Homo sapiens: one gene and its partner. The protein of the gene in region 2 interacts with the protein of the main gene of each other region in a pairwise test. Each region holds a gene or a part of one and is shown on either strand. Other genes may lie near its edges.

What was found.
Region 1: the proteins of GPRASP3 (region 2) and MPP1 interact in binary tests that used the Homo sapiens proteins (3 or more experiments, as listed by UniProt).

The regions. Positions count from the first base shown.
Region 1 is NC_000023.11:154,788,486-154,791,985, reverse strand, and holds part of MPP1 (55 kDa erythrocyte membrane protein), read left to right. Parts: intron 1-138; coding exon 139-217; intron 218-917; coding exon 918-1,003; intron 1,004-1,963; coding exon 1,964-2,032; intron 2,033-3,500. UniProt on the Homo sapiens protein: Essential regulator of neutrophil polarity. Regulates neutrophil polarization by regulating AKT1 phosphorylation through a mechanism that is independent of PIK3CG activity.
Region 2 is NC_000023.11:102,744,743-102,748,242, forward strand, and holds part of GPRASP3 (G protein-coupled receptor associated sorting protein 3), read left to right. Parts: intron 1-1,236; exon of another isoform or gene 1,237-1,432; intron 1,433-3,074; 5' UTR 3,075-3,169; intron 3,170-3,500. UniProt on the Homo sapiens protein: Survival and differentiation promoting protein that plays a role in the regulation of neurosynaptogenesis. Induces phosphatase PP2A activity which results in APP dephosphorylation and inhibits BACE1-mediated processing of APP.

The DNA of each region.
Region 1 (3,500 bases), about 52 Mb from region 2:
CTTCATGCCTGTTCTAGTTGAGGACTATCCTGGGTATAAATGGAAAATATTTTCCTGAGAAATTACCGTAAGTTCTTTCTAAAATAACCTCAGAAAGAGCTTAAAATAAAGCTTATTGTGCCGTCGCCTTTATTTCAGGGAATCACGCTGAAGCTGAATGAAAAACAGTCCTGTACGGTGGCCAGAATTCTTCATGGTGGCATGATCCATAGACAAGGTACTCTGTGGGAGCTCTGGGTGGGGTTTGATTCAGGGATTAATAATTTACTCCCTGTTCAGTGGTGTGGGGCATGAAGCTTATAATCCTCCAAACTGGTAGCATTTTTGTGAGTGTGCCAAGAGACTTTTTGTGGCTTAATAACTGGCTCTGTAGAATCAGTACATGATAAGATCTCTATGTGAATTGCCCAGTGCCACCATCTCCCTATCTGAGCCTTCTTTCACACCTATTTATACCAATATTTTTCTAGTAAGTTAATATTTGAGCAATTGCCACATGCCACCCATTGCATTAGACTTGGAAAGGACAGCAGTACCACTTGGTAGCATTTTGGGGTTTGAGCTAAACAACAAAGAAACATGGAGCTTGCTGGTGAAAGAGGAGTACTGAGTTCTTTGCCTTGCTTTGTTATTCTTTTTAGTGTATACATCTGTGTCATAGTCTGGAGTCAGTAGCCACTCTAGTTCCAGGAATTTGAGGACAAGGTGTTTTATTGTGCTGTTGGACTACTGAGGCCAAGGAGGATGAGACCATCTTAAACTGTCAAGTCAAATGTTTTCAATCCTGAGTATTTGACACAATCTGTTTCATAACATGCTGTAAATCCTGGTTTCTCTTCTATGGTATCTTGAGTTACATTGACAGCTCCTGTTTGAACTTTTGTTCTTTTGTGGATTGATTTTTCATTTCATGGCAGGCTCCCTTCACGTGGGGGATGAGATCCTAGAAATCAATGGCACAAATGTGACAAATCATTCAGTGGATCAGCTGCAGAAGGCGATGGTGGGTATTTTCTATGCTAGATGAAGACCTTCCATTGTCTCCATAAGTGTTGATCCACATTGGTATCAGTGACCTCATCTCTCTGTCAAAGTATTTGTACCTTCTTGAGGGGGCTCTTTTCACTGCTAGTCTTTAATCTGTGTAAGAAATGATAATTTTCTGCCTTTATTTAGTAAAATTCTAAAGCAGGGCAAATAACCCAGAGCATCAATCTGGTGTTCCATGAAGTAATGCCAAATGAAGTAAAGCAAGCTATAACGTATATAGTAGAATCCCATTTTTGTTAAAAACAAACAATACATATGTATGCATAATGTATGTAAATATTTGTAATGCTTTTGTTGGTATGGGGAAAGGCGTGGATATATATGCGCCATAGTTCATTTTTAGGAACTTCTTCAGGACTTTTTGGGGTAAAGAATGGGGAAGAAAAGTCTTTTTTTTTTTTTTTTGAGATGGAGTTTCGCTCTGTCACCCAGGCTGGAGTACAATGGCGTGATCTCGGCTCACTGCAACCTCCGCCTCCTGGGTTCAAGCGATTCTCCTGCCTCAACCTCCCAAGTAGCTGGGATTACAGGTACCCACCATCACGCTGGCTAATTTTTGTATTTTTAGTAGAGACAGGGTTTCACCATGTTGGCCAGGCTAGTCTTGAACTCCTGACCTCAGACGATGCGCCCACCTCAGCCTCCCAAAGAGCTGGGATTACAACAGGCGTGAGCCACCGTGCCCAGCTCGGAAAAGTCTTTAGTTAGCTTTTCTTTGTTACTCTTTGCATGTCTTCATATTGTTATGCTGATTTATGGGGCACATGACACTTTTGTATTAAAGGAGGAATTGTCCTACAAAATCTCAAAATGTAAAGATGGTTGTTGGGGAAAAAAACCTGGGACTTTGAATGAATGATCACATCATTCAACTTAGTTTTCTGTACAATTTTATGTCCATTTTTTTTAATAGAAAGAAACCAAAGGAATGATCTCATTAAAAGTAATTCCCAACCAGCAAAGCCGTCTTCCTGCACTACAGGTGGGTGGCACCATTTTCTCTGTTGTCATGATGGCAGGAGTCGGGCCATGTTGTCTTATATTCTTTGAAATTTGATTATAAGGGATGTGAGTCTAACTTTAAGTTCTAAGTATCTCGCAAGTGTGTAGCTGCTTGGCTCAGGGTCCCATTATTCCCTGCCTGGTATAAAATACAGGAGCTCATTCCCCTTTCCTCAATGGAGAACATAGTGACGACAGGAGTAGAGAATGAATGAGCCTTTGCTGCTAGTGGTCAGGTAGGAAGGGAGAGGGTAATTTTATTCTACAGATGGTAAGGAATCAATACAGCTCCAAGAGGAAAATGGGTAAAGGGAATGAAGAGATCATTCACAGGAGGAAAACTACAAATGAGCATTGAACATATGAAAAAATATTTTATCTTACCGATCATCAAAGAAATGCAAATTAAAATATGCATGAGACACCAGTTTTCACCAAGCAAATTGGCAAATACTTTTTAAAATAGCAATAATAAAGCCCCGTGATTGATAGTGGCAAAGTAAAGAAAGAAACAAAAGATAGATAGAATCTGTTGAGCACTTATTCACAATTTATTGAGGGTCTACCATGTACAAAGTACTGTGCTAGAACATGGAGGTGATATAAAGAGAAATGGTTCCCAGTTCACACATAGCTCATCAGCCAGTAGAGGAATAGATTGGACAGGGCCATGGCAAGTCAATGTGGAAGAAGGAGATATTTAAAAGAATAAATCTGAAGTTTCTATTGCAGGTTACTTGTAGTGTGACGGTATAATTTTCTTAAGTAAACTTTTAAATTGCAGTTTTGGCATATATGGGCATATATTCAACAAAGGGCACAAATCACAAGTATAAAACTGGATGAATTTTCACAAACTGAGTACACCCATGCCTAAGACCGCCGCCCCCTCACCATGCGTGTTTCCTCAAGGCCCACCATAACCCTGACTTCTAACAGCAGGGATGAGTTTTGCCCCCTTTTGAAATGTATTAACGTTGAATTATACAGTATGAATTCTTTGGTGTCTTATTTTATTCGCTCAGTATTATGTTTATGGGAATCATCTATATTGCTTCATTCTCATTCATTCATTGTATGAACATGCTACAATTTAATCTATTCTGTCAGCTTTTTTGGTCTTACATTGAATGGCTGCCATTCACCAAACAGGATCTAATTCAGCAATATGAGAAGATTTACTGCCTGAAGGGCAATAAATTCACCACGTTAACAGAAAAATGGAGAAAAATCATATGATTTTTGTGCATGTGTTTTGTGGATACATCTATGCCTTTCTTTTGAGAGTAGAATTGCCAGGTTGTAGGATATATGTGTCTTCATCTTTAGGTGATATTGCCAAATAGTATTCCAAAGTTGGTGAACCATGTTACATCCCCAACTGCACAGTATGACAGTTCTGGTTGTTCTGTATTCTCACCAATACTTAGCATTGTCTGATTTGTTGG
Region 2 (3,500 bases):
CTCTGGGCTAAGCCCTGGGGTTACAGGCAGCAAAGACACACCTATGAATTAGCATTGATCTGCAAACCACAGAGGGTACCATGGAATTGTCATGATTCAGTAGCCCCTCACCTCCTTCAACCCTTGACTGACTATACCGTCTACAATGTGCTGAGAATACAGTGGGGAACAATACCAAAAGGGTACTTTCATTCAGGAAACTTCCAGTCTAACAAGTCAAACTCCCCATCGCTTGGAAGGGAGAGTAAAAAAATATATATATATTCAGAAGAAAAAAGCACATGCATGCATTAGGCAGGGTGCAAGGCTGGGAGAAAAGGAGGAGTTGAGGAGCGCAGCTGGAATCTGGGATCTGCCTCGAGGAAGTGCGCGAATAGTGGTCCCCTCTCCTCCCAGAACAGTGGAGAGGCGCCAAGACCATCCCTACCTGGTGCCATCAAAGAGAGAGGACTGTTACGACCTCCTGCGAGTCCTGACAGGGAAAGGCCCTCTTTTGGGGTCAACTGTGGGGACGGCGCAATGCCAACCTGAGCCACCATTTGAAATGAGAAAAAGCGGCGTGGCAGAAAGAAATGAGTCTGGTACAGACCAGTGGTTGGTTTCCTAGGGTTAGAGGTCTAGGTCTACCTTCTGTTAGAAGAGGGGCAGTGGTGAGGCCTTGATGGGAGCCCCCTGCCCCAGAATTCACTTAAGAGCAGGTGTACCTTCCTCCCCTGCGTGGCTCCATGAAGCTGGGAAAGAAACGCACAAGAGGACCACCCTAGAGGCCCAGGCTTGTTTGGCCTGAAATCGCCTCACCCCTCCCAGACTGCACTGCTGACACCCCCTCTCCCATTAGCTTCCAGGAAGGAGAGTGAGAGGGCTGGGGAGAGGGAAGGGGCAGACACCCAGCAGTCCCTGGTTGGGGAGTTGGGGCGGGGGTGCAGACACACCAAGGGGCGGTTTGGTATCCATCCGCTGCTCCCTCCAGCGCGGCTCTTCCCAACCTCCTGATCCTGTCCCCTGCCTGGGTCCCCAGCCGCCCGCCCGTCCCTATATTATAGCAACGCCAGAAATGTGGTGGTGGTGGTCGCCACGTTAGGGTCCGCGGGGGTCCTCCTGAGGCAGCCTGGTGCCAACCCGCAGGCCCAGGCTGGGGCTCGTCATGGCCCCGCCCACCTCTGGGTCGGAACTAAGGTGGGCCTGAGAGGGGGGCGTCGAGCACTTTCGCGCCGTATCCCTCCGCCCCCCTTCCCGACACCCTCGCGGAGAGAGCGGTTCTTGCAGCATCCTGCGCAGCCCCTGCCCAGTTTGGTGCAGAGGCGTGGGGGGCGGGACGCGTCTTTGCCATTCTGATAGCGGGGAAAGCGGTGAGAATCGAAGTGAGGAGCCGCCAGAGGAGAGCTGAGGAGAGGAGGGGGAGGTCGACGACCTGGGCCCTGGGCCTCTGAAGGCAAGTGGGGGTGCGTGAGCTTGGGGTGGTCCGCCAGGGTGGACCGGCTGGCAGCCTGCCCCGCCGACCCTGACATCCTGGCAAGGAGGAGACGATCCGGTCGGAGCCGGTCGCCGGAGAGAGGTGCGCAGTGCTCGAGACCCCTGGCGATGGGGAGGCGGTGACCGGTGCAGGCCGAGCCAGGCCAAGGGCTGAGGGGCTGGCTTGAGAGGCACCGTCAGATCGTCTGGAGGAGAACCGCGCTGACCGCCTCCAAGCCAGCTTTGCAGGCGCCGGCGCCCCGCCCTCGACGGTGTCTGTGCCCGGAAAGGGCTGTGGGGGAGCTCCTGCGGGAGAAATGGCGGAGCGGGAGCCATTGTGGGGGGCTCCCGGGAAGGCCGGGGGGAGCCGGCGTCCCAGCTCTGTGCCCAGCCCACGAGAGGTGGGCCGCGTTCGCTACTCGGGGCCCTGATTCCGGAAAGGGGCCTGTGGGACCCCGTGTCTTGGGTGCTGTCCCTTCCCACAGGCTCCAGGTGGTTGTTAAAGTCTCCTGTCTGCGTGATAGGTCTGTTGGGTTCTCCAAAAGTGGAACTTTGAGTGGGTGAATTATGAAGACACTAAAATGAAATGTTTAACCGCCTTTTATAATACCGCACTGTTTTATTGCCTTACATATTTAGATCCCCACATCCAGTTTTGTGCAAGCAAATAGGGTGTGGACTTAGTCGAATTTCACAACAGTGGTCCATGTAAATAACAGGGTAGTATTTTTCCACCTTTCTTGTTCAGGATCTGTTTTCTCAACATGCTGATCCACTTTAAGTAATGTAATGATGTGTGAGAATGTGGGTTCCGAGTAGAGGGGTAATCTTTTTGAAGGGTCAATTTAGAACATTTGAAGTCAATCTGCTTCTTCAGTTTATGGTTCTGGAAACCAAAACTCCATCTCCAGCCACTCCTCACAGACCCTCTCATTTTGGTGCAGAAATAGTCCCACAGAAGAATTCATGGCATTTCTGATGGTGGATATCTGAGGAGCTATGAGAGTTGGGAGACTTTATTTACTTAGTTTCTGATTCTCAAAAAGGAGGTGTTAGAATCCGAATTCTGGGAATCTGTCCATTAACCTGCTATTTTTCTACCATTGTTAACATAGTCTCTTGGGGTTATTTTTTGCTAGTTGCTCCGCCTTCTTTTTGTAGGGCGTGACTCTTCTTTGGTGGGAAGGATAGCATCTCCTGAGAACTCCTGCTGTATAAGCAGGCTGACATAGGTGGTGAATAAAGTAGGATCTAGGTATGCATGGGGAAGGGGAAGGACATGCACAGATGGTATTAAAATAACAGTCTCCATTATGTTCCCTGCCTGCCTTGTAAGTACAATTGCCTATGTTCCACTACCTATTTCTGCACCTCATTTTTTTTGGTTCAGGAAAGGAGCTGTAACTTCTATTGGGAAAATGACTGACTTCAAAGTTGGCAGGAGGTGTAATCAGGCTGCAGGTCTTGGGGTGATTAGGGAATCATTGAGGAAGAGCAGACAGGTGGGAGACATTTAACATAGCCTTGAATATTCAAAAGCATATGTTATAATCCTTGTTATAGGCATTAGATCATCTTAGTCTCTTCTGTTTTCTTTCCTCTGCCTTCCTTTCTATCCTTAGGTCTGTTTCTTTCTAGGTTCCTGTAGAGATCTGTATGTAGCTGTTCACTTGGAAGTTAATTAAGAAAGAACAAAAACTATTCATTTGGATTCAAGGTAGGTTTATGTGTGAGCACCCCCGTTGATTGGGGTTATGGAAAGGCTGTTGCCAAGTGGGTTAGACCAGATCATATCTTGGTGCCACTGTCTTCCATCTTTCTAGTCACCTCTGACCTCACATTTGTGTACAAGTGATGGGGTGGGGTGAGCCAGGATTATGCCTATGAGGTAATTGGTAGATATTGGGGCAGGAAATGGGAAGATAAGCCACAAGGAGTACTAGGAGGCCAGAAGTGTTATATAACCAAAGCCCTAGATTTGGAAAGGCAGAAATTGGGTTTAGAGATTAGAGTGTAGGTCTGTCAACCAAATACTCAGAACTCCAATC